Homo sapiens: one gene and its partners. The protein of the gene in region 5 purifies or fractionates together with the protein of the main gene of each other region. This does not show direct contact. Each region holds a gene or a part of one and is shown on either strand. Other genes may lie near its edges.

Region 1 (2,256 bases), about 26 Mb from region 5:
TACACCATTGTTCCTTACCTTTACATAATTGCAATATTTCCCCCTTACTACTTCTTGGAAAAAAATTACAAAATGAAGTTTTATAGAAAAGATGGATTTGCTTTGCTTGGTTTTTCTTATTTGAGCTACCAAGAGGAGAGAACTCTGATTAAATATCTTGTGATTTAAATCCTGCCCCCTCCCCAAGAAGGTGGGGACGTTCAGAATCACACTTGAAGAGGGGGTGCATTGCCTGGTCCCAGGGAGAAGGAGGGAGCAGATGGGGAGGAATGAGGCAGGGAACCATGGTTGGGGTTTTCTGAATTTGCTGAAGCCACTAGTTGGCATCCTTTAACAATTCTACAAACCTTTAGATGGTGAGGCTTATGTGGCAGGACTGGGAGGGTTTAATGCATGCTTTTTGACAGTTTGGATCTGGAGGGGTCTCAGGCTTCCACAAAAATTACATTGTGGACAGTTTCATAGGATTTTGCCTTTTAACTCTTCAAAGCAACAGTTTTCTCAACTGTCATCCCCGCGGGGGAGCAGAGGAAGACAAGTGAGAAGGAAAAGGGGACAGGATCTGGGTTGAGCAAGCATTAATTGAGCGCCTTCTGTATCCCGGACATCATGCCAACACCATGGGCTGCCCGAGAAGAGAGGTGGGTGGTTTGGTCCCCAGCTCTGCCTTGAACCCTCACCTGCTCTCCTCTACTCCCAGTGTTTATTGGATATTCCAGAACAGTCCAAACGAACCATAAACTTTATATCACAGATTCAATCTGTGTAAATACTATTATCTTCAAGTTGTAGTTTCTTTCTTGGGCCCAGGCTGTGAAATTGGCTTCACCCCTACCACACCCCAGCGGGCAGGCTTGTTCTTATGTCACACTCCACCCCTCCAGTCTCCTCAACTGGAAAACTTGCCTCTTTTCCTCACTTCCTCTGCTCCTTACAATGGCTTCATATGGAAGGTGAAGCTGAGATCACCCCAATTTTACAGGTGAGGAAACTGAGGTCAAGCTAGGAGCGTCCAGCGGGGCTGAGAAATTGCCAGGATTTCCTTCCCCATTAAGGAGCTGAGAGTCTTAGCTCCAGACACGTTGGCTTGTTAGAATATCAAAACCACCGAAGGGGAAAAACCACTTACTGGAATTAAATGCTATCTGCTGTATTAGTTTAAATCAGTGGCGTTCAAACTTGTTTCTCCTTTTCACTGCGGAACACGTTCTTGACATGTACTTGACTCAGAGTCCCATGTCTAAAGGAGACAGAGCCCAAGGCAGCCCACCTGAAGCTGGGGAGGGAGTCCAAAGTGCAAGCCACCTGGTCTCCATTTCCCCGCCCCTTGGGGGCCTTTGGGCAGCTCCTTGGACCCCTGAAAGAGGCCACCAGGATAAACTTTGTTAAAATGCATGCCTTGTGCCCCACTGTCCTATTACGGGCTTTCAGTAGTCTCCACTCCCTCGGCAGGCAAAGACACTGGCCATCTCCAAATTCCCTCCCCTCCTGCACAGCATCAGCCACCTGGCAAGCAGTCTCACATAGGACCATTTGCCAGCAGGCCCTGCAAGCCTGGGGGACAGCCTAGAGGAGGTGACTTACATACACAGCATAAGAGTTTTCAGGAGACCAAAAAGATTCAATATATGTCATTAACTCCTGACTCAGTTTCCCCAAACCATGCCTCCTGAGTGCTCCCTCTGTCTCCAAATCCTGATTTTTGTGCGCGGACCCCTGTCTACAATAAACAGGATCCTATGACTTCTTTCTTCAATGTTCTCTTGTCGTGCCTTCAGATGATGCAAAGTATGTAAGCTAAGCCCACTTGCAGGAAGCTCACAGAAGGCAAGAGGCTCATCACTTGAAAATACGGTTGGAGTGAGATGGAAAGCCCAGAGTCTCCTGATTCCTGGTCTACCACTGGACCACATGACTCCAAAACCAACACTGTGACTGACGTCCTCTACTGGAGTCCAGTGTAAGAGCTGTCCCCTGACCTCCAGGAAGCTGTGTTGCAGTCTGGGTTAAAGACCAGAAAACAATAGTTACACAGCAAATGTTGAACCAGGACAACAAACCTGCCCTTATTCCCAGTCGAGTCACTTAGGGGGCACTGACAGGTAGGCAGGCGGGGTGGCTAGGTGGGGCCGGGGCACACTTGGGAGTCAGGAGTTACAGGGCTCTTTCTCTTCTCTCCCTCTCCCTGGGGACCCACCCTAACCTGGACACCCCCGGGCTGCTCACTCGGCCCTCTGGATGCCAACAGCATGCACC
Region 2 (3,500 bases), on a different chromosome or scaffold from region 5:
GAAAAAATAAAAACAAAAAAATCCCAGCAACAATAATAATAATAATAATTAGCCAGGTGTGTTGGTGTGTGCCCTGTAGTCCCAGCTACTCATGAAGTGGAGGTGGGAGGATCAACTGAGTCCGGAAGGTTGAGATTGCAGTGAGCCGTGATCACACACTGCACTCCACCCTGGGTGAAACAGCCCATCTCAAAAAACAGTTCATCATAAGCTGAAAAAAATCAGATCTGCTATTACACGAATTTTAAAAAGTGCACACGTAAAAGGACTGAGTACAGTAATAAATACCTGTGAACCTACCTCCCAACTTAAAGCAGGATACTAAAAAGTCAACTTCAATGAATTAATATGCCTAATTTAATAAATTCAACCCTGGTGATCAACGGGATGACAGGTGTCACAGCCAGATAGTCCTCACATTGGATAAGTTCACCACATAATTCCTTTTTTTGTAGAGATGGGGTCTTGCTATGTTGCCCAGGCTGGTCTTGAACTCCCAGCCTCAAGTGATCCTCCTGCCTTAGCCTCCCAAAGTGCTGGAATTACAGGCATGAGCTAACACATTCAGTCACACAAAACAATATTTAGAGATTTTTTTTCACTTCAGTCTTCATGTTTCTCTAGGAAAAGAGAAGGGCTTTGACTTAATGGTTAAAAACTAATATAAAAATTGGTAATATCAATCAAGGCACTTACATATAATATTGACAAACATGATTCTTTTTTCTAAATATTTCATTTTCCAAGGTAAGAAATTCGATAGCTATGTTTTTCTCTCCTTCTAAGGCATCCTTTTCCTTTTCCACCATCTTTACCCTGTTTAACTACAGAAATTAAAAGTTTAAAGACTGAATACACACTTCATATGTACAATATGAACTTAAAATATGCAAACATTAGATAAAAACAGTTAATAAGGAGAATGTTCATCTTAAATGTTAAGATATAAATTTCAATATAACACTTCTTCATTAAGTATTATAACATGAATATCTGACTTACTAAAATTTGTTAGATCATAAATGAAACATTCTGATTTACAATGAAAGTCTACAGATGATTCACCTTCTCTCCTCTGTGTTCATTTAATATTTCAACTCTCCGACACAAGACTTTAATAGGTTCATTTAGCCGTCCACAACCAATTATATCTTCTAAATATTCAAGCATACCCTCATCGTGTTCAGTCTGGCCTTTTGGTTTCATCATAGCAATTTGTTCAACTTCACCCTTTAAAAAAAAGTTATATTTCATACTCACTGTGTATGTTTAGCTAAATCAATCTTAAGTGAGAATTGGGAGCAGTTAAATAATAAAGCCAAGAGTAATAAACATCTAAATAATGTACAGTTAGTAGTGCAATGATTTAATAAGGTATAAATAAAAATGTTATTTTCACTGGTATTCCTAAGAGTTTTAATTTTACACAGGGAGATATGAAACATGAATTTATATTCCCTTAGATAAATCCTTATAAAAGTGTAATATACACCCACTTACACACACTCATTTCCCCAACTAGAATGTTCAATATAAATAAATAAAACTTGTTTCTTTAAGTAAAATTTAGGAAAGCTTTCACTTAATCTGCAATCTGATTATAGTGGAAACATTATCAATTGTTAATAACACAATTGAAGCTCCTGTTCTAAAACAAAGAATTTTCAAAAACACTTGCATGGTTAAACTGTGTTAGGAACCCTGTCCCAAAGTAGTATTACCAACTTTCTCTACAAACATGGTTTTTAGGAGTTCCTTAACAAGTAATGGGTTTCAAAGGTAGTCAAAAACTTACATGTTCAGTTTTCTAAAAACAAGAGCCTTTGACAGAAAAGGATATTACCTATTTCTCATGGTAATAACAGAAATCAAACAGACCACCTTGACTAGAGAAAACTAATGGCACTGGTACATAAGACATCAGAAAACTTTCAGTTTGTAATCACTAATATAACAACTTTGAACTGTAATTAAAATCTTAGATTAACTTTACATATTTGCATTTATGCAGTTTAATTATGAAGAGTAAAGAGAAAAAAAATCCATAATAAGTAACCATCAAGGCTGACTGCTAGGCAGTCATTTAGTTTGATGGTGGAGAGAAAATTGTGTCTGAGTATGTTCAGGCCAAATGCTGCTACGTTATAGGAGTAGCTTGTTTGTACTCTAGACTATTACAATGGAAGAATAGGTACAGGCAAATGAAAAAAGATATACCTCTTATTTTCAACAAAATAGCAAAGACGAAAAAAGTCAACAAAAAGAATTACACATTAAAAATAGTATATTGTTTTCTTAATTCAAATATCTTAGTGATTCCTATTTCCTAAGTGAATACAGGTGAACCTTAAAAATGTGGGGTAAAACTTACTAATGAGAGCATCATAATTCACCAAAAGCCTCAACATAATTACAAAAAGTAAACAATTCAATAACAGTGGACAAAACAGCTTATTTGAAAATCTACTCATTAAGAAATAATTTTATTTGCATAAATCACTTTTCGATACTTCTGACAGTCTATAAGCACAATGATTATCAAAGTAAAACTGTTACCCCAAAAGTTATTTTCCATAACATTCATTATATTATGTATGAATCGGTATATAAGTGAAAATATGTAGATATTTATATAAAGTATTTTATTCTGCTTTCAACTGTTAGTTCTCTCTAAATGTTTGCAGCAAGAGTTTAAGTTTTAGACAGGATTGAAGCCTGGAAAAATGCCCAAACCTTTGGATTACACAGGATGAACGTTAAGTCACTGAGGAAGCCAAGAGTCTTATTCAAGTTTGTATCTACGTAGGGTTTATCAACAGTGGCACTACTGACATTTTGGGCTGGATATTCTTTGTTGTGGAGAGCTATGCTGGGCATTATAAGATGCTTTAATAGCATTTCTGACCTTCACCCACTAGACACCAGTAGCATCCCCACTTCTACCAGCTATAACAACCGAAACTGTCTTCAGACGTTACTGAATGTCCTATGGGAAAAGGGGCAGAATTACTGTCAGCTGAGAACTACTGATCTAGAGGCTGCAGTTTGTTTGTTCACTCATTTATTATTTTTTTGAGACAGGGTCTTGTTCTGTCACCTAAGCTGGAGTACAGTGGTGTGGTCTCAGCTCACTGCAGCCTTGACCTTTCAGACTCAAGCGATCCGCCCACCTCAGTGTCCCAAGTAGCCGGGACTACAGATGCACACCACCACACCCAGCTAATCTTTAAAAAAAAATTTTTTTTGTACACATGGTGGTCCCTCTATGTTGCCCAGGCTGGTCTCGAACTCCTGGGCTCAAGCGATCCTTTTGCCTCAGCCTCCCAAAATGCTGGGATTAAGGGCATGACCCACCATGCCTAGTCTAGAAGTTGTAGTTTAAATCCTGTGGGTTAGTGTTTATCATCCAAATAAAAAACAATATCTGACAATTAATATTCTACCCAATTCAAGGAGAATATCTGAACACTTATTTTAAGAAAATGAAAAACCATCCCAAA
Region 3 (3,500 bases), on a different chromosome or scaffold from region 5:
TCAACACCATAAGCACTGAATTATGAGAACTCTTTAGTATATGGGTCCTCACTTCTCCAACCTTTTCCTCTAGATTCTTATTTCCAATCAAGTCTCTGCTACTTAGTATCTTATTAACTGGAACCCTCTAAAAATGGTATCTATTGGTCAGATGGTAACTTGTGTTTGCAATGATGACTCAAAGGCGCTACAAGATCTTACAGTGTCTTCTGACCCATCAAAAATAGATTAAATTCTGGACACTGCAGTTGATGTCCTAAGTGGATTGTACATATTCCAACTACTTGAAAGTGAGAAAGCCACTGATGGCATATATGGAACCCTGTGGCCCCCTATTAGCTAGAGCGTTCACTAATGGGAACACCCCCTCCTCTGACCGTGCTGTGCCACGGGATACTTGTGCGAAGAGCTTTTCACGGAAAGGGAAGAAAGGAGGAGGAAGCAGGGAAATGGGCCAAGCGGCTTGCTGTTTAGAGCACATGGGAGAGAGATATTTGTAGATTTATGTGTGAGGAATGATTAAGGCTTGTGGGATTTCTTGACATGGAAACTCTGAAAATATGAGCATCAGACTTGAAATCCCAGGGCAGAATTCTACCCCAGGTTTTGGTATTATTTGGAATGGGCACTGGCTTCTGTTTCCTCGCTTGCAGAGGGGATGATGGATACTGAATGACCCAATAGGATGGGGTAGGGAATGGGTCATAAGCCCAACATCTGGGTCCTATGCACCATAAACAGCAATGGTGCCTCTTGCGTCCTGGGAAAAGAAAGGGCAGGTTTCTTCTTTTTTTTTTTTTTTGGGAGGCCGAGGTGGGTGGATCATGAGGTCAGGAGTTCAAGACCAGCCTGGCCAAGATGGTGAAACCCTGTCTCTACTAAAAATACAAAATTTAGCCAGGTGTGGTGGTGGGCACCTGTAGTCCCAGCTACTTGGGAGGCTGAGGCAGAGAATTGCTTCAACCTGGGAGGCGGAGCTTGCAGTGAGCCAAGATTGTGCCACTGCACTCCAGCCTCAGTGACAGAGAGAGACTCTGTCAAAAAAAAAAAAAAAAAAAAAAAAAAAAAAAAACCAAAGCAATTCCTGGATATAAAAATAAAGGAGCTTAGAAGGAGCAGAAAAAAAAAATTTAAAAGCAAAGCACTCAGCAGGAGCTGCGGTTTCTGTTCTTTGTATTGTTCCTCTCTTACACAGCCACTCTGGACAACTGGCTTCCCTGCAGGGACCCTGGCCTGCCACCGATAAAGGAGAAACAGACTCATCTCCAAATATTTGGCAAAAATAAATGAGAATACCCATAAGACCAGGGAGTGTGCTAACTATCACAGTCAGTCACCATCACCCTGGCCCAAGGTCATCAGTCTCTGGCACAGGGGCAGGGAGAGGAGCTGGTATTGGGGTAGGTGTCTCATGGTCCTCTCTGACTTTGACCCCAAAAGTCTGGAACTATCTGTCTAAACTTTACACCTTTCTCATACCTAACTAGGTTTTCAGCCTGCATACCACTCAGCACAAGATGTTCAAAATTACCTCCTAGATGAAGCAACACCTCCTTCAAGCCCCTAGGGCTTTGGTGAACAGGTCTCAGGTCTACTCAAACTCTGTTGTCTTGAGACTGTGAGAGATGTTGGTAAAAATCCCATCAGCATGACAGGTTGGAGTGAAGTCATCTTAGCTCCTTCATCAGGCACACAATCTCTCTTTAGGAGATGTGGGTTCTGCCCTAGCTCTGTCACCATCTCTCCATGTGACTCATCTGAGTCTCTCCTCTTTTCTGTGTCTCTCTGTTCCAAAGCCAGGTTCTGTTCTATGACCCTCTAACAGAGAGCCTTCCCTCCACCTTCAGTTATTTCAGCTGCCTTTCTGTGAACTTGAGCTTGTTGGAAGACAGACTTGTTGAAATTCAAAAGATCACCCATCTCTGACTTTAAATAACAAGAGCTGTCAACTTGGAGCAGTGGATTGGCATTCAGCTCAGAATGTGCAGCTGCTGGGTTTGGTTGGTTGTTGCCTATGTGCATGTGTGTGTGTGTGTGTGCGTGCGTTTTAATATCTATTTGCTAGGAGGCATGAAAAAGCACTTAGCTGGGATAGTGCTGCTATTTCTCTGGAGCTAGAGCAAAAATTTTTTCAGCACATTAAAGCATGCAGTTATGCTAAGAAAAAAAATGCCTGCAAAATTATATCTTGGGGGTTTCCATATTTATCCATCCCCTGGACTATGAGTCAAAACAAGATTTATTTGTGTGGTTCATTTTAAACTGCCAGCACTTCAAGCTCAACTTGGAACGTGGAGAAAAAAAAATCAAACTGCTATTTTTTGCACCATGCTGTACATTGTCACCAATGACAAAGATCGCAGAATGAGGTTTAGCTAGCAGCCCAGGAAGGGAGAGGGAAGTGGGCCAGGACCCCTTGAGCTGAAGAACTGTTCTGCTTTGAGAGAGAAGCAAGAAGGACTGAAAAGTAAATGAACACCTGCTTTTCAGGAGCAGATTTCAGCCATGGACCACAGGACAAGAGAGAAGCAGTGCAGTGTGGCAAAGCCCTCGCTTCTAGATCGGGTGGTGCTGCTGACAAGTGTGGGCGCCTTTGGGAAAGTCACTTCCTCTTTTTGGATCATAGTTTTTCTTACTTATAAAACAAGAGGTTGCATTAGATTAATCTCCACGTTTTTTTCCAGCTCGGAAACACTGGTCTATTCGGCTTAACTCCGCCAATTCTATTTCACTTCCTCGACTCACATGCCCAGGAATCTAGTGCCATCAGAACGACAAGAGGCTCTAAACAAGAAGCTCAGCATCCCAGGACTGCAGACACTGGGGGCCAGCAATCCGGCTCTGGGGGAAATACCAGCCCATACAGGCTTGTACAGGCTGGCGTTCTAATTTCTATTTTCTCTACCCGACACAGGCCCCAGAGTCTTCTGATGTCCAGTTTGTCCCATGGCCACACGTGGGGCCTTAGAGCCTGACTAGTTTCTTTTCCAGATTGGAATGGTTAAACCAATTCTACCCAATTGAGATAAGAAATTGGGGGTGGGTTGGAAATGCCGAGTTGGCCGAAAGACTGCCTGCGGTGACTTCCTATAAGGCACTCAGGAGAATCGGCACAGAGGGCATCTGCTGGGCCTCTTCTGCAGAAGGCCTGCAGGCAAGGTAAAGTTGCCTAGACTGGGTGAAATAGCAGAACAAGGGCAAGGCCACAGTCTTCCCATCTCATCAAGCAGTGCTGGTGCTCTCTTGCACCAAAGGATTTTGGTTCCCTCTGGGCTGGAAGGACCCTCCAGAATCTCCTCATCCACACACATTCCTGCTCCGTCTTGGCCTCCCAGAGAGATAGTCAAATGCCATCATACACTGTAGAAATTTAGGGGCCAGGAGGGAGCATTTGGTCTGCTGCCTTGTTGAATGATTGGCCAAAGTTTCATGGCCAGGAAGTGATCAAGATGGGATAGTAAGAACTTCCTTTCAGGGAACTCCACTACCTCCCCCGAGCA
Region 4 (3,500 bases), on a different chromosome or scaffold from region 5:
GGTTGAAATATTCCAGGAATTACCAAAATGTGACACAGAGACACAAAGTAAGCACATATTGTTGGAAAAATGGCATTGATAGACTTGCCCAAGGCAGGGTTACCATAAACCTTCAATTTGTAAATAACGCAACATCTGTAAAGTGCATTAAAGCCAAGGTATGCCTGTAATGTGAAATAGTGTCAAGCGCATAAATCTGTGTGTGTTACTACTAAATTAGGTAATCCATTTTGGGAGGAAGGTAGAAAATCAAGAAGTAAAGAAAGGCAAGATGCCAGAATTTTCGGAGCAGCTTCCTAGAAGATAGAGCTTGAGCCCTTAAAGGGTTCAGCTCCTCAGGAAGGGAAATAAAGGATTTACACAAGAAGTTGACTTCATGGAAACAGCAAAGATGTGTTCCAACTCCACTAAGAGCTGATGAGTCACCCTCATTCCACTTTGGGAGACTCTTTGATTGCTGAACGTCTCACCTCTGTCTTAGGGGTTCCCCTGGTGCTGCCGGAGTTGCGGTTGACAATATCAGAGTCAGTGTAGGGCAGGGGTTTATGTGATGCTTAGATGCTAACAATCTAATGCAAAATTAAGGAGTTGAATTACCAGCAGTAATTGTTAGCAGAGCCCTTACCATCTCCATGGTAAACTAAAAAATTTCCACAAATCAGCCACAAGTAGAGAGCCAGCCAAATTTGGCTCCTAACATATTTCATCATTCACTTAAGTGAAACTAGTGTAACTTGTTAATGTCTCCTTATAGGTTTTGCTTTTGTTTGTTTTTTGAGATGGTGTCTCGCTCTTGTTGCCCAGGCTGGAGTGCAGTGGCACCATCTCGGCTCACTGCAAGCTCCACCTCCCGGGTTCACACCATTGTCCTGCCTCCGCCTCCCAAGTAGCTGGGACTACAGACACCCGCCACCACGCCCGGCTAATTTTTTGTATTTTTAGTAGAGACAGGGTTTCACCATGTTAGCCAGGATGGTCTCGATCTCCTAACCTCGTGATCCGCCTACCTCGGCCTCCCAAAGTGCTGGGATTACAGGCGTGAGCCACTGCGCCCGGCCTATAGGTTTTTTGTGTGTGTGTATCATTGTAGCTAACTATACTTTCCATATTTGTTTATTTTACAATAGAAAAATGAAAAGCTTTTTTGATGTTGAGCTGATGATCTTGATGTTGATGTAGATTTCTACATAATTGACATGTCCCTCTCCACAACAGTTCCTGGATTATCTTGATTTCACAGTGGTTTTAAGCCAAAGGGGATTGAATGGTGTGTATTATTTTATAACTGAGGACTTCAGTTTGTGGTCACTTGAACTATCATAGGTCTTAAATAATGTAATAACCTAAGTGAATGGTATCAATATTATTCTAAAGTCCTTTAAATGTAGCCATATTTGTCATTTTCTTCTCCTTCAAAGTGAGTGATGCCGAATGAGGGATGTAGAGAAGTGAGGGAGATGGTAGATTCTGAATGTGGCTTCTTACTGAAAGTAGTTAAGTGTTCATTTGCCGTGGGATAAAGGGATCCAGCCGTCCCTGAGTGGCTGTTTTGGTGAAAAGAGTAAGATAGGTTGTCTTTATCTCTGATTAATATATTTTTTTCTTTATGTCAGTCTCAGAGAAAGATGTCACATCTGCTAAAGCACTGTATGAACATTTGACTGCAAAGAATACAAAATTGGATGATCTGTTTCTAAAGCGTTACGCATCTTTGCTGAAGTATGCTGGAGAGCCTGTCCCTTTCATTGAACCCCCTGTGAGTATTTCTTAATTAAGGGGAAAAAATACCTCTGCAGATTTATGTGCACTTCATAACAATGTGTAAGAAAATAAGTTGAAGACTTAATTACATGAGGATTAGATCTCTGTGAAGAGCCCTCAGGGGATGGCTTGAGGGACTGAGCAGCATGCCTTGGCTGCGGCAGTCGGAGAACATAGCTCTCTGGGGCCACAGTTTAAAATACAAGGTCTGTCTCAGACCTTCAGCTATAGGCATGGATTTACCAAATGTCCTTGGGGCAGTTCTCTCATTTCAACTTGAAATAGGATTTAATGGCCTGTAGTTCAACAGCCAAGCATATTATGTCAGTGGTAATTACTTGTTCATTTACATAAGTTGGTTTTTATTTCTTCGTCTAGGAAATTTTGCCTTTTTTTTTTTTTTTTTTTTTTTTTGAGATGGAGTCTCGCTGTGTTGCCCAGGCTGGAGTGCAATGGCACGGTCTCGGCTCACTGCAACCTCCGCCTCCCAGGTCCAAGCGATTCTCCTGCCTCAGCCTCCCAAGTAGCTGGGATTACAGGGGCCTGCCACCATGCCTGGCACATTTTCGTATTTTTAGTACAGATGGGGTTTCACCATGTTGGCCACGCTGGTCTTGAACTGCTGACCTCGTGATCCGCCCACCTCGGCCTCCCAAAGTGCCGGGATTACAGGCGTGAGCCACTGTGCCCGGCATGTTTTCTTTAATAAGAGAAATCACATATGCACAATTCCTTTTTGTTATGTCATTGAACTGAGTCAATACACCGTGTTTATTTCAAACACCTCAGCCTTCCATACCCATACCTCCATATGTGCACACACACATGCTTGCACATACACACGTATACACACACGCACCCTACCTCCTGCTGCTAGCTTTAACTCTGAACCCGAGGCCCTTGAACTTGTGATTTCATGAAACAAGGAAGGAGTACTGAAGCTTGAGGGGCAGCATCTTCCATGGGCCTGGCAGTCTTAGCTACCAGTTGGTAGTGTTTTATGATTTTTTAAGTTATGTACCATCACCTCTTGCTGGTATCTCTAACTTCCCTCTTTTTTTCTCCTTAACAGGAAAGCTTTGAATTTTATGCACAGCAGCTAAGAAAATTGAGGGAAAACTCTTCTTGAAATAACCAGGCGATACTTTGTTTTGTATATATTTGTGATTCTGTGTCTACATGTTATTTTGAAGTATATCTGAGGGAAAAATAAATGAAAATTTTCTTTATGTACTTATGTATGTGTGATGCATGTTCAAAGTCTTATTGACCATAACTCTGTGCACTTGGTTATTGGACATTTTTGGAGTTTTTTTCTCTGGGAAAAATCGATAGTGTTTTCTTCAATGCTGCTGCTGTGTGAAGCCATACTTTTTCAGGATTCTTCCCCTAATTGGCTCTTTGGTTTCCCTGCTCTGTTTCATTTATTTCATTAAAATGTTATTCCTTTATTTAAGATTCACTTATTAGTCTGCTGTTTCTCTGAAAAATTTTAGAGCTAGGTATAGTGACCGTGAACTTTCTAACGCATAATATTCTGTGATACAGCCATTCCGTACATGTGTGAAGTCCTGCATAACTTTCGAACTTTGTTAAATGTTGGCACTAGGAGTCATCAGATCTAGGCTTCATCATTTTCCAGTGAGAAGCAGAGACCCAAAGGGCCTGTTACTTGTGCTTGGTCAGGGGACTGTCTGTCATGCCTGGAGGCTCTTCGGCACACTTCCCCATCTTTCCCT
Region 5 (3,475 bases):
AATTACAGGATAGCAAGGGACATAGAGCCCTGGGGTCCCCAGGTCAGCCAGCACATGCAGTGAATATGGGCCAGTACTTAGTATGAGCTGGAGGTGTGTTTGTGTGAAGCAAGAATGGTGGCATTTCAGGCAGTGAGAGAGACCAGTCAGGACAAATCTCACCATCTAGGCAGGAGCACTCCTCCTGTGGACCCTGTTTTCATGTTGGGTTTATTGTGGCCTTTCAGAGAAATGGGTGGGAGGAAACACAGGGGTCCCACTCCTCTGGGGTCTGCAATCAGAGCACCTGGGCACAATGATGGGCAGCAGCAGGCTGGGAGCAAGATTCCCAAGGGGCAGCACTGTCTGCTTGGCTCCATCCCAAGCGGGGAGGCACTACTGCTGATGCCACAAACAAAAATCCCGTTTTCTGAGCTCAGTTATACTCCAGGCCCTATCCTAGATCCTTGACCTGTGTCATCTGATCTTCGAAAGCCTCCTTGACTCTGATCATGCACTCCTGATTTACAGGTGAGGCCCAGAGCGGGGAAGTGATTTGTTCAAGGTCACACAGCAAGTAAATGGCAGAGCCTGGCCGGAACTCAGATGTCTTAACCCCAAGGCCAGGAACAGGCTGAATATGACCCTTTCAAATCAGCTGGTGTAGCTGGTCCCAAGGTACAGAGTGTCCTTTTCCCATTTCATAGCTGATGAGACTGAGGCTCGGGGAGGTGGAGAGTCTTGGCCAAGGGCCTATCACAAGGGCATGGTTGAGACAGAGTCAAACCTGGGACTGGTTGAGTTGAACACCTGTGATAGCTCTCTGGCCTGAGTACTTTGTCCTCCTTCAAACCCCCTCCCCCTCCCCCACCACAGAAGGCAGCTGTCTGTCCATCTATGGGTCCATCCAGGGGAACTTACATGGGTACCTCAGGGGTATCAGCGACCGGGATGCGAAGGTAGGTGATATCCTGCAAGTACAAAATACACTCAGGCAGGGGACCTTGCCTGCAACCCTCCCTGATGCTGGTCCGAGCTGCCCAGGCAGGGCATAACCCCAGCCCAGTTCCTGCCCTTCTCTGGCCCACTGTGGTCCTCTCTGTCCAAAGAAAGTAGTTGTCATCTCTGAGGCCTCCCAGCTGTGACCACTTGTGATTCCTGAACCTTCTAAGCACATGGTGTCTCCTAACCCCATCAGCGGCGTGGGCATGACGTCACCTATCCCTCCCAACAGGGACCCAGGAACCTTTATCAAGTAGCTAGGAAAGGGCTACTTAAAGGGACTCCACTCCAAATGGGAATTACAAAATTACATCGTAAAAAAGGTAGAGCAGATTTGATTATCTTGAAAAGAAACAAAAATCATGAAAACAAGTATACATTTCAGGAATCATGGTTATAAAATGATGTGCTGATTATGAGAATAATCAAGGAATAAATTGTCAGGAATTTTTTCCAGCAAACTTGCTGTGATGTCCTTTGTTTCCTGATTAGCCACACAATATCATGAAGATTATTTTTGCCCGCCTCCTGAGGACCTCCTTGCTTTTCTCGAGAAACTGTCTTAACATTTTTATATTCAAATGGCTCTTTTCAGGGGCCAGGCCCGTCACTGGCAGTAACTAAGGGACCACCAGCCAGGTTCTCATTTGTCCATGGCTTTGTGTGAGATTCCAGCCCTTCTCTCACTCACATTCCCCAAGGTCATGACATCCTGCATCTTTGGCAAGGTTTGCAATTTCACTTTGCAACACATTTGGCCTTGGGTTTGTGTGGTACTATCAAACCCTGCCTGGTAAATTTGCTGATGGAGGGGGGAAGGAGAGATGCTTGGGAGAAGCAGGAAGGGCCGTAGGAGCAGAGACTCATTGTGTAGGCTGTCATTTCATTAGTAAATACACTCATGACTTGACAACCTTCCCCATGCACTCTAGTGACTGTTTACTCCAAATACTCCCAAACGAGGCTGCCCTATGAGGCAAAATAAGACTGCAATGGCCTGGAAATTTCTTCTCTGAATGACATTGAAAATCATAGATTATTAGAGGTTGCTGTTAGAGAATATCAAATCTGACATATGGGAAAACTGAGGCCTAGAGAAGGGAAGGACCTTGGCCAAGATCACACAGCAAGTCTATGGCAGAACCGGGTCTTCATTTCAGATCTCCAGGACCTTTTCCCACCCATGGTTCTTTCTCTCCAGTGGATGATACAGACTCTAATAGATAAGGGTGAAGAGGCTCTGTTTATGGGATAAGAATATGATTAAATTTGTTATAGTATCAGTTGTGATTTGTTGAGCATCTATTTATGTGGTTCCCAACCACTCAGTGAAGTGGGTACTGTTATAAAGTTCCCGTTTTACAGATCAGGCAACTGAGGCTCAGAGGGGGCAAAGTCCTGTCCCCAAGGTCATAGAGCAAATAAACAGTGAAGATGTTCCTGACATAAGCACGTGTAGTCTGGATTTATTACTTTCCTCTGCTGGGTCCTAACACCCTCATGCCCCTTTCCCAGGACTTGATAATACCAGCACCAACCGCCCTAGAGGGGACCATGCTTTACAGTGTGCAAAGCATCTTCACCATCCTGCAGTCCCTTTGCATCCTCACAGCAGCCTTCTGGGGGCAGACAGAGCTGAGGGATCAAAGCCCTAGAGAGGTGAAGTCACAGCCCAAGGTTGCATAGCAAGATACAGAGCCCACAGTCATCCATTTGGATTCATCCATCCAGTTGGGTCATGGGAAGCCCATATGGGGGCCATTTTAAGGTTCAGTGTGAGACTTCTGGTGCTAGATGGCCTGTGTTCATACCCCAACTCCTCAGCTTCCTGGATGTGTGACCTCAGGTGAGTTAATTGACCTCTCTGGGCCTCAACTGCCAAATAGGGATGATAATGTAAAATGGCCCAGTGGTGGAGACCAAATGAGTTAACATGAGTCAAGAAGGAAGCATAGCACCTAGCACATAGTAGATATTTGATAAACAGGTCTGCACCCTCCCACCCCCGCATAGCCCTGGGATGGGGGTAAGAAGTACCTGCAGCAGAGGCTGGGGTGACTCATGGATAGAGATGATGTGTGTGATCTTATTTCGGCCCAGCTGATCCAGGTCTTTGGCATCTGAAAGAAACAGGATGCTTGAGCCAATCTGGCTGGCGGGATGTCCTGATGGCCAAGTGCGGAGGGAGCTCACTGCCTGCCCAGCTCTCCCTCTCACCCCACCACTCCACCTTGGCCCACGCTCTGCCGGCTCCCTGATCCTCTTGCTTCTGGGGCACATGCAAGTAACAGTACAGCATATCCCCATCCTTGCTCATTCTGTTCTTTCCATCCAAAACACCCTTCCCAGGCATATTCTTTGACCCAGCAATTCTGCTTCTAGGAATCTTGTCTACAGAAGCGCTTGCTCACACAGAAAGCTGTGTGTGGAGGATGATGTTCTCTGCAGTCCTGCTTATATCACAAATAGTTTAAACATGGGAACAACCTGGTGT
Region 6 (3,500 bases), on a different chromosome or scaffold from region 5:
CTTCATCCTAAAATTTCCAGTTTTCTGGAGAGAATATTCTTCAGTGCTGGAGAGTGAATCTGACTCAAAGATATGTTTGCTGCTTTTCCCCCAAATACTTTATTAAAGGAAATATGGAGTTAGAATTTTTCATCAGTTTCTGACAGTATCATTTCCTTTTTTGTTGTATATCACTGTATGACATCAGTGTTTGAGCTAGGCAGGATTTGGACACTCGAGGGAAAGCTGGGACTTCCGTTTGGGTAGTTGATAGTGAAGGGACATGGTGAAAAATGGATTTGTAACTAGAAGGCCTTGGTTCAAACATGACTTTGTGGTGTTGGGAAAGTCTTTGTATTCAGTTTTCTCTTTTCCGAAATGAAGATATCATCTCTGTGCCACAGTTACCTTTCAGAGTTGTCATAACCACCAGAATGAGGTGATGTCTTTTGAAGAGTTTTTCTCCTAAAGTTCTGTGATTTTAGGCTTGTCCTGTGATCAGCTGCTCTCTTAGGTATGTCAGTTTTCATACCATAGGGAGTCGTGATACTCTTGATGTAGGTTGGTTAGTCTTAGGGTCCTTCTCCCAGCTCTAGAGCCTTTTGACTCTTTTAACAACCAGAGGGAGGTAGAGCAGGCTGGGGGTGGGTGTTCAGGGAGGCCTAATGGGGAGTTTAGAGCTTGGCTTTATGCTTATTTTGTCCCCACAGGACCCTGTGGTTTTGGCATTTGACATTGAGACGACCAAACTGCCCCTCAAGTTTCCTGATGCTGAGACAGACCAGATTATGATGATTTCCTACATGATCGATGGCCAGGTGAGCAGGTGGCTTCTGGGAAGTAAGCTCCTGGGATGGGGACCTTGTCTGGTCCCCATACTACAGCAGCATCTGCCCCACTGTTAGTATTTGTTGAGTGAATAATGAGTTAGTCCAGGAATGGGAGCAACCAAGCCGTTCCGACCTCCAGCTGTACCCTCCCCTTTCGAGTGGGAATCCACACACAGAGCGTCTCTTCTCAGGAAGCTTAAAGCACTTTCACATTGCTGTGGACTTCTTTGTAGTGAGAATCTCTAGGCAGAGTGTGTGGGCAGGGTGGGAACGCCATTTCTTGGCTTTGCAGCCTCTGACTTGTGCTGATTGCTAATGAACTTGGCTAGGGCTACCTCATCACCAACAGGGAGATTGTTTCAGAAGATATTGAAGATTTTGAGTTCACCCCCAAGCCAGAATATGAAGGCCCCTTTTGTGTCTTCAATGAACCCGATGAGGTAAGGAGGTATCACTTGGGAAACTACCCGGTATTGTGGGAAGAACGGACATGTGGATCTTTCCAAGGCCTCAGGCATTCCGTCAGATCAGAATTGCAGCTCCATGAGCTTTGTTCTCAGGGTATGACCGTCTTTTCTGCCAGAGACGGGCGGAGGGGCGGGGCAGGAATAAGGGCCAACATGAGGCTGCTGCTTCTGAACTTTGGGAGAGGAATTTGGAATAGCTTGAAGAAGAGAAAGAGCAGACCTCTGACTGCTGTGACTTGGGTTCAGGCTCATCTGATCCAAAGGTGGTTTGAACACGTCCAGGAGACCAAACCCACCATCATGGTCACCTACAACGGGGACTTTTTTGACTGGTGAGTCTGTGTCTTCTCTATGAGTAACTGGGCAGCATTTGAGAGGGAGGGCGTTGCGTGGTGCAGGGGCGCTTCCCATGTCGACTTAGGAGGTGGCTCCTGGGTTCACTCTGCACCTCCCGTGTCTGGGTTCCTCCCTGGGTCTGAGGGAGGAATGGAGAAAGGGGCATTAGAGCCTGACCTGCCCACTTGCTTGTCTGTCCTCTTTCCAACCCAGGCCATTTGTGGAGGCCCGGGCAGCAGTCCACGGTCTGAGCATGCAGCAGGAGATAGGCTTCCAGAAGGACAGCCAGGGGGAGTACAAGGCGCCCCAGTGCATCCACATGGACTGCCTCAGGTAGGGGCCACAGAGCAGCATGGCTCCTCACTGCTGTCCGTGAGCGAGATCTGAAGGCCTCTTGCAGACTGTGCTGTCACCACATCTCATGGGAGGAGGGTGGCCTCCGAGAGGCCGTTTCAGGTCACCCAAGAGTATGGCAGCTGCAACCCTGCCAGGGCCCGGGATGTGCTGTCTTTGACTGTTGACTGACAATTCATCAGTGACCAGGCACATTGAGCATCAGCCTCTGGGGTGGGGAAGCCGCTGGAAAGACGCACTCAGCTGACAGGTCCCAGACCTAGGACCTCATGGAGCTGCTCTGCCCAGGCAAGGTTGGGATGTGGCAGCCCGGCTGCCTCACAGGACAAGCCTCACGGGACAACCACAGATTCCATATGAGCTAGGGTGGGAGGCAGCTCAGAGCTTCGGAGAGTCACGGCGTTCGGGGGCTCTGACATGACTGGTTGGGAAGACAGGTGGATGTGGAAATGCCAACAGAAGGAGGCTGGAAGGGAAGGAAGGGAAGGGAGGGAGGAAAGGAGGGAAGGGAAGGAAGGGAAGGGAGGGAGGGAAGGAAGGGAAGGGAGGGAGGGAAGGAAGGGAATGGAGGGGCCTCCACGGCCTCTGTATTCTGCACAGTGCCACTGGGGTGCTTGCAGCCTGAATGCGTTTCTGTTTAGCTCTGATGCTCAGCACTTGGCTTGGAGAGGGAGGCCAGGAGGCTGGGGCCGGTTTAGCGTGTGACGGTGTGACAGTCCTGATCCAAGGCAGGGAGTGAGGGTTGTGAGGATTCAGGATCTGTCATGTGGGGCAGGGGGAGGCCCAGGGATGCTGGTTCTTAGGGAGGGGTTGGCACCTGGGGTTTTTGTGCCATCCGTGGAGACAGGGAATGGGTAGAGAAGGGGCTTGAGGCAGGAGGTGACCCTGCTACCGATATGCTAGCCTGGAAGCCCCACCCATATGGGGGCCCTGAAGACCACCATGAGGCTTGGTTTGGGCTCGCACTGTAGATTGGGACTCACTGGGTTGCGGGTGGGTCTTGGTGAAAGCTGGGGTAGTGGATGAACTGAAGGCAAGAGGTAAAGTGAGAGAAGAAGGCCACAGGGTGGAGGCTGCGGGGGGTGGAGACCGGACATGACCCCTGGACAGCTGCTCCAGGGAATGCGTCTGTAGGGAGGAGGTAGAGACAGGTTCCGGGTAGAGTGTGGGGGGCCTTCTTTTCTTAATTTTTATTTTTTATTTATTTTTTAAATTTTTATTCTTCTTGGCATCTGATCACATCTTGCCTTCTATTAAAGGAGGGTGGGCTTGAGTGTTTCCGTGCTGAAGGGACAGTGTGAGGAGAGAAGATCAGTGTGGTTGATAGAACTAGGCCCCAGGGGTGCAGACCTGAGGTCTGGGGAGAGGCCCAAGGAGGTGGGGCGCCCGTCGGAGAGGCCACAAACTCTGCTGAGGATGGGAGGAAGGCGAGGGCCGGAAGGACCAGTCCTGGTGCTTCCTTGTGTTGTGGATAGGTCTGTGAGATTAACTAGATCCTGATGAAGGGTTTTCACAAGGTGTCTACACCATGTGG
Region 7 (3,500 bases), on a different chromosome or scaffold from region 5:
CTCCCACAAAAAGGCAGAAGGAAGGATAACTTCACAAGTGCTGGCACCTTTGTTAGGGCCTGGGAACAGGTAGGACAAGGAAGGCAACAGAAAAAAGACGTGGGACTCACAGCTAAGTGCAAAGGGCTGACTGGAATGGTGCTCTCCACATCCTCCAGGCAGTTAAAGGACATTTCTAAGAGCTGCAAAGGACAGGAAAGTAGGTGCTGAGACTCTGGAACTCCCAAGATAGTACCCCAGTCCCCGACTCGCAGTAATCCCCACTAAGCCTCTGGATCCAAAGACCACATTTGATTGAACCCTTAGTTTTGGAATCCACAAACCCTGTGCCCTGCCCCTGCCTCCCCTCCTGCAGGCCGGGCCCCAACACATACCAGTTCGAGGTTCTGTCTGTTGCCATAGGCGGCTGCATAGTGCACAGCTGTGTAGCCCTGCCTGTCCCGCAGGGAGGGGTCTGCACCGTTATCCAGTAAGAACTCCAGACAGCTGGGGAGCCGGGGGTAGACTGTGAGGCAGGGACAGGCCCAGCCCAGGAGGGCACAGTTCTGGGAGGGCCAGAGGAGAGGACCAAGGCCCTCCAGGCCTACCTGGCCGCCACCCGTCCTCAGCTCTAGGTAGGTTCTCTAAATCCTACCCATTCTTCAATGGCAGCTCCAGACCCACTTTACCTTCTCAAGGTCTGCCCTGAACCCCTCTGGCTTCAATGCCCTCCTTTATCCTCTGAATGCTCTCCTAGAGAACCTAGAGCATGATGTTCAGTTATCAGCCTTCTGCTGACCAACATGCTTTCCCCACCTCCAGGCACGCCAACCCCTGCCCTAGGATGCTTTCTCCTCCCAGCCCACCCGAATAAGTCCTGTTCATCTCAAACTCAGTCCCAGCTTCTCTCCTCTGTGAGGCCTTTCCCAGCCTTCCCTGGGGAAGATGCCTCTTCCTCTGTGCTCCCTTGGCAGTCTTCTCATACCTTAGTAGTAGTTGTAGTAGTAGTAATAATAATAAAGTAGCACTTACTGTCAAGCACAGTTCTAAGTACTTCATGTATATTAAATAATTTAATCCTCATAAAGATCCCATGAAGTAGATACTATTTTTATCCTTACTGTGGGTGATGAAATTGAGGCATAGAGAAGTAACTTGCTGAAGGTAATAGCTGAGCCTCTTGGATTTTAGTGTCCTTTTTAAAAAAATAAATCTTAAAAAAAAATTATTTAATTTACTTATTTTAAATGGAGACAGGGGCCTGGCTCGGTTGCTCACATCTTTAATTCCAGCACTTTAGGAGGCTGAGGTGGGCAGATCACCCGCGGTCAGGAGTTCGTGGCCAGCCTCGCCAACATGGCGAAACCCTGTTTCTACTAAAAATACAAAAATTAGGCTGGGCGTGGTGGCTCACGCCTGCAATCCTAGCACTTTGGGAGGCCAAGGCAGGTGGATCGCCTGAGCTCGGGAGTTCAAGACCAGCCTGGGCAACATGGTGAAACCCCGTCTGTACTAAAATACAAAAAATTAGCCAGGCGTGGCAGCGTGCTCCTGTAGTCCCAGCTACTCAGGAGGCTGAGGCAGAATTGCTTGAACCCAGGAGGTGGAGGTTGCAGTGAGCCAAGTTCATGCCACTGCACTCCAGCCTGGGCAACAGAGTGAGACTCGGTCTTCAAAAAAACAATTAGCTGGGCGTGGTGATAGGCACCTGTAATCCCAGCTACTCAGGAGGAAGAGGCAGGAGAATCGCTTGAACCCCGGAGGTAGAGGTTGCAGTGAGCTGAGATCGCGCAACTGCACTAGAGCCTGGGTGACAGAGCAAGACTCCATCTCAAATAAATAAATAAATTAATTAATTTATTTATTTATTTAATTAAATAAAATAGAGATGAGTTCTCATTATGTGTTAGCCAGGCTGGTCTCATACTCCTGGGCTCAAGCAATCCTCCCACCTCAGTGCTGGAATTACAGGCATGAGTCACTGTGCCTACCTGATTTTTGTGGGTTTTTTTTTTTTTTAGAGACGGGGTCTCACTAGGCTGCCCAGGCTGGGGTGCAGTGGCTATTCATAGGCATGATCATAGTGCACTACAGCCTCAAACTCCTGGGTTTGCATGATCCTCTTGCCTTACCTGCACCTGCCTCCTGAATAACTGGGAATATATGCATGTGCCACCGTGCCCAGCAAAAAATAAACTTTTTGTTTTAGAATATTATTAGATTTATAGAAAAATTGTGGGCTAGGTGTGGTGGCTCATATCTGTAATCCCAGCACTTTGGGAGTCTGAGGCAGGAGGATTGCTTGAGCCCAGGAGTTCGAGACCAGTGTGGGCAACACAGAGAGATCCCTGACCTACAAAATAAATTAATTAAAAAAAAAAAAAAAGAAAGAAAAAGAAAAATTGTGAAGATAGTACAGGGAGTTCTCACATAACCTATACCTAGTTTCCCGTCATTAACATCTTACATTAGTATGCATAAGTGTCCTTTTATTTATCTTTCCCAATAGATTATTAGCTTTCGAAAGACAGAAATTTGGGACAATTCATCCTTTTTAAATTTTTATTTAATTTTATTTATTTATTTGTTTTTTTGGAGACAGAGTCTCACTCTGTCGCCCAGGTTGGAGTGGATTAGTGTGATCTTGACTCACTGCAACCTCCACCTCCCTGGTTCAAGTGATTCTCCTGCCTTAGCCACCCGAGTAGCTGGGATTACAGGTGCCTGCCAACATGACCAGCTAATTTTTATATTTTTAGTAGAGACGGGGTTTCACCACGTTGGCCAGGCTGGTCTCGAACTCCTGACCTCAGATGATCTGCCTGCCTCGGCCTCCCAAAGTGCTGGGATTATAGGCGTGAACCACCACACCCGGCCTATTTTTAATTTTAATTTTTTTGAGACAGAGTCTTGTTCGGTTGCCCAGGCTGGAGTGCAGTGGCGTGATCTCGGCTCACTACAACCTCCACCTCCCTGGTTCAAGCAATTCTCCTGCCTCGGCCTCCTGAGTAGCTGGGATTATAGGCGTGTGCCACCACACCTGGTTAATTTTTTGTATTTTTAGTAGAGACGGGGTTTCACCATGTTGGTCAAGCTGGTCTTGAACTCCTAACCTCAGGTGATCTGCCTACCTCAGCCTCCCTAAGTGCTAGGATTACAAGCTTGAGCCACTACGCCCAGCCTCATCTTTTATCCTTAGTATCTAGCACAGTACTTGGAACCTAGTAAGTAAATATTTAATTAATGCTTGTGGAATAAACAAATTATTTTGTACATTTAGCTTTTCTAATCCTCTCAAGAAGACCAGCCGGGCGCGGTGAGCTGAGATCACACCACTGCATTCCAGCCTGGGCAACAGAGTGAGACTCTGTCTCCAAAAAAAAAAAAAAAAAAAAAATCCATTCCTTTAGGGAAGGAACTATGTCTCATACTTTTGGGTTTTTTTTTCCCCCTGAAGCTCCTGAGCTTCAATCTCATACTTTTGTCTTTGCCCACTATGGACTACACCCAGAGGGCTCAAG

What was found.
Region 1: the proteins of DUSP15 (region 5) and PCK1 purify together in Homo sapiens (affinity purification with mass spectrometry; one large-scale study listed by BioGRID and IntAct). This does not show direct contact.
Region 2: the proteins of DUSP15 (region 5) and SMC4 purify together in Homo sapiens (affinity purification with mass spectrometry, with the first as the bait; one large-scale study listed by BioGRID). This does not show direct contact.
Region 3: the proteins of DUSP15 (region 5) and CRACR2A purify together in Homo sapiens (affinity purification with mass spectrometry; one large-scale study listed by BioGRID and IntAct). This does not show direct contact.
Region 4: the proteins of DUSP15 (region 5) and LRPPRC purify together in Homo sapiens (affinity purification with mass spectrometry, with the first as the bait; one large-scale study listed by BioGRID). This does not show direct contact.
Region 6: the proteins of DUSP15 (region 5) and POLE purify together in Homo sapiens (affinity purification with mass spectrometry, with the first as the bait; one large-scale study listed by BioGRID). This does not show direct contact.
Region 7: the proteins of DUSP15 (region 5) and ANKRD52 purify together in Homo sapiens (affinity purification with mass spectrometry, with the first as the bait; one large-scale study listed by BioGRID). This does not show direct contact.

What each region holds. Positions count from the first base shown.
Region 1 is NC_000020.11:57,566,366-57,568,621, forward strand, and holds the end of PCK1 (phosphoenolpyruvate carboxykinase, cytosolic [GTP]), read left to right. Parts: 3' UTR 1-1,756; downstream 1,757-2,256. UniProt on the Homo sapiens protein: Cytosolic phosphoenolpyruvate carboxykinase that catalyzes the reversible decarboxylation and phosphorylation of oxaloacetate (OAA) and acts as the rate-limiting enzyme in gluconeogenesis.
Region 2 is NC_000003.12:160,409,650-160,413,149, reverse strand, and holds part of SMC4 (structural maintenance of chromosomes protein 4), read right to left. Parts: intron 1,231-3,500; coding exon 1,066-1,230; intron 825-1,065; coding exon 697-824; intron 1-696. UniProt on the Homo sapiens protein: Central component of the condensin complex, a complex required for conversion of interphase chromatin into mitotic-like condense chromosomes.
Region 3 is NC_000012.12:3,620,610-3,624,109, forward strand, and holds part of CRACR2A (EF-hand calcium-binding domain-containing protein 4B), read right to left. Parts: intron 1-3,500.
Region 4 is NC_000002.12:43,887,990-43,891,489, reverse strand, and holds part of LRPPRC (leucine-rich PPR motif-containing protein, mitochondrial precursor), read left to right. Parts: intron 1-1,127; exon of another isoform or gene 1,128-1,267; intron 1,268-1,613; coding exon 1,614-1,756; intron 1,757-2,833; coding exon 2,834-2,890; 3' UTR 2,891-3,500. UniProt on the Homo sapiens protein: May play a role in RNA metabolism in both nuclei and mitochondria. In the nucleus binds to HNRPA1-associated poly(A) mRNAs and is part of nmRNP complexes at late stages of mRNA maturation which are possibly associated with nuclear mRNA export.
Region 5 is NC_000020.11:31,864,053-31,867,527, forward strand, and holds part of DUSP15 (dual specificity protein phosphatase 15), read right to left. Parts: intron 3,102-3,475; coding exon 3,019-3,101; intron 951-3,018; coding exon 901-950; intron 1-900. UniProt on the Homo sapiens protein: May dephosphorylate MAPK13, ATF2, ERBB3, PDGFRB and SNX6.
Region 6 is NC_000012.12:132,673,843-132,677,342, reverse strand, and holds part of POLE (DNA polymerase epsilon catalytic subunit A), read left to right. Parts: intron 1-689; coding exon 690-797; intron 798-1,138; coding exon 1,139-1,249; intron 1,250-1,522; coding exon 1,523-1,608; intron 1,609-1,825; coding exon 1,826-1,945; intron 1,946-3,500. UniProt on the Homo sapiens protein: Catalytic component of the DNA polymerase epsilon complex. Participates in chromosomal DNA replication.
Region 7 is NC_000012.12:56,248,385-56,251,884, forward strand, and holds part of ANKRD52 (serine/threonine-protein phosphatase 6 regulatory ankyrin repeat subunit C), read right to left. Parts: intron 487-3,500; coding exon 375-486; intron 183-374; coding exon 111-182; intron 1-110. UniProt on the Homo sapiens protein: Putative regulatory subunit of protein phosphatase 6 (PP6) that may be involved in the recognition of phosphoprotein substrates.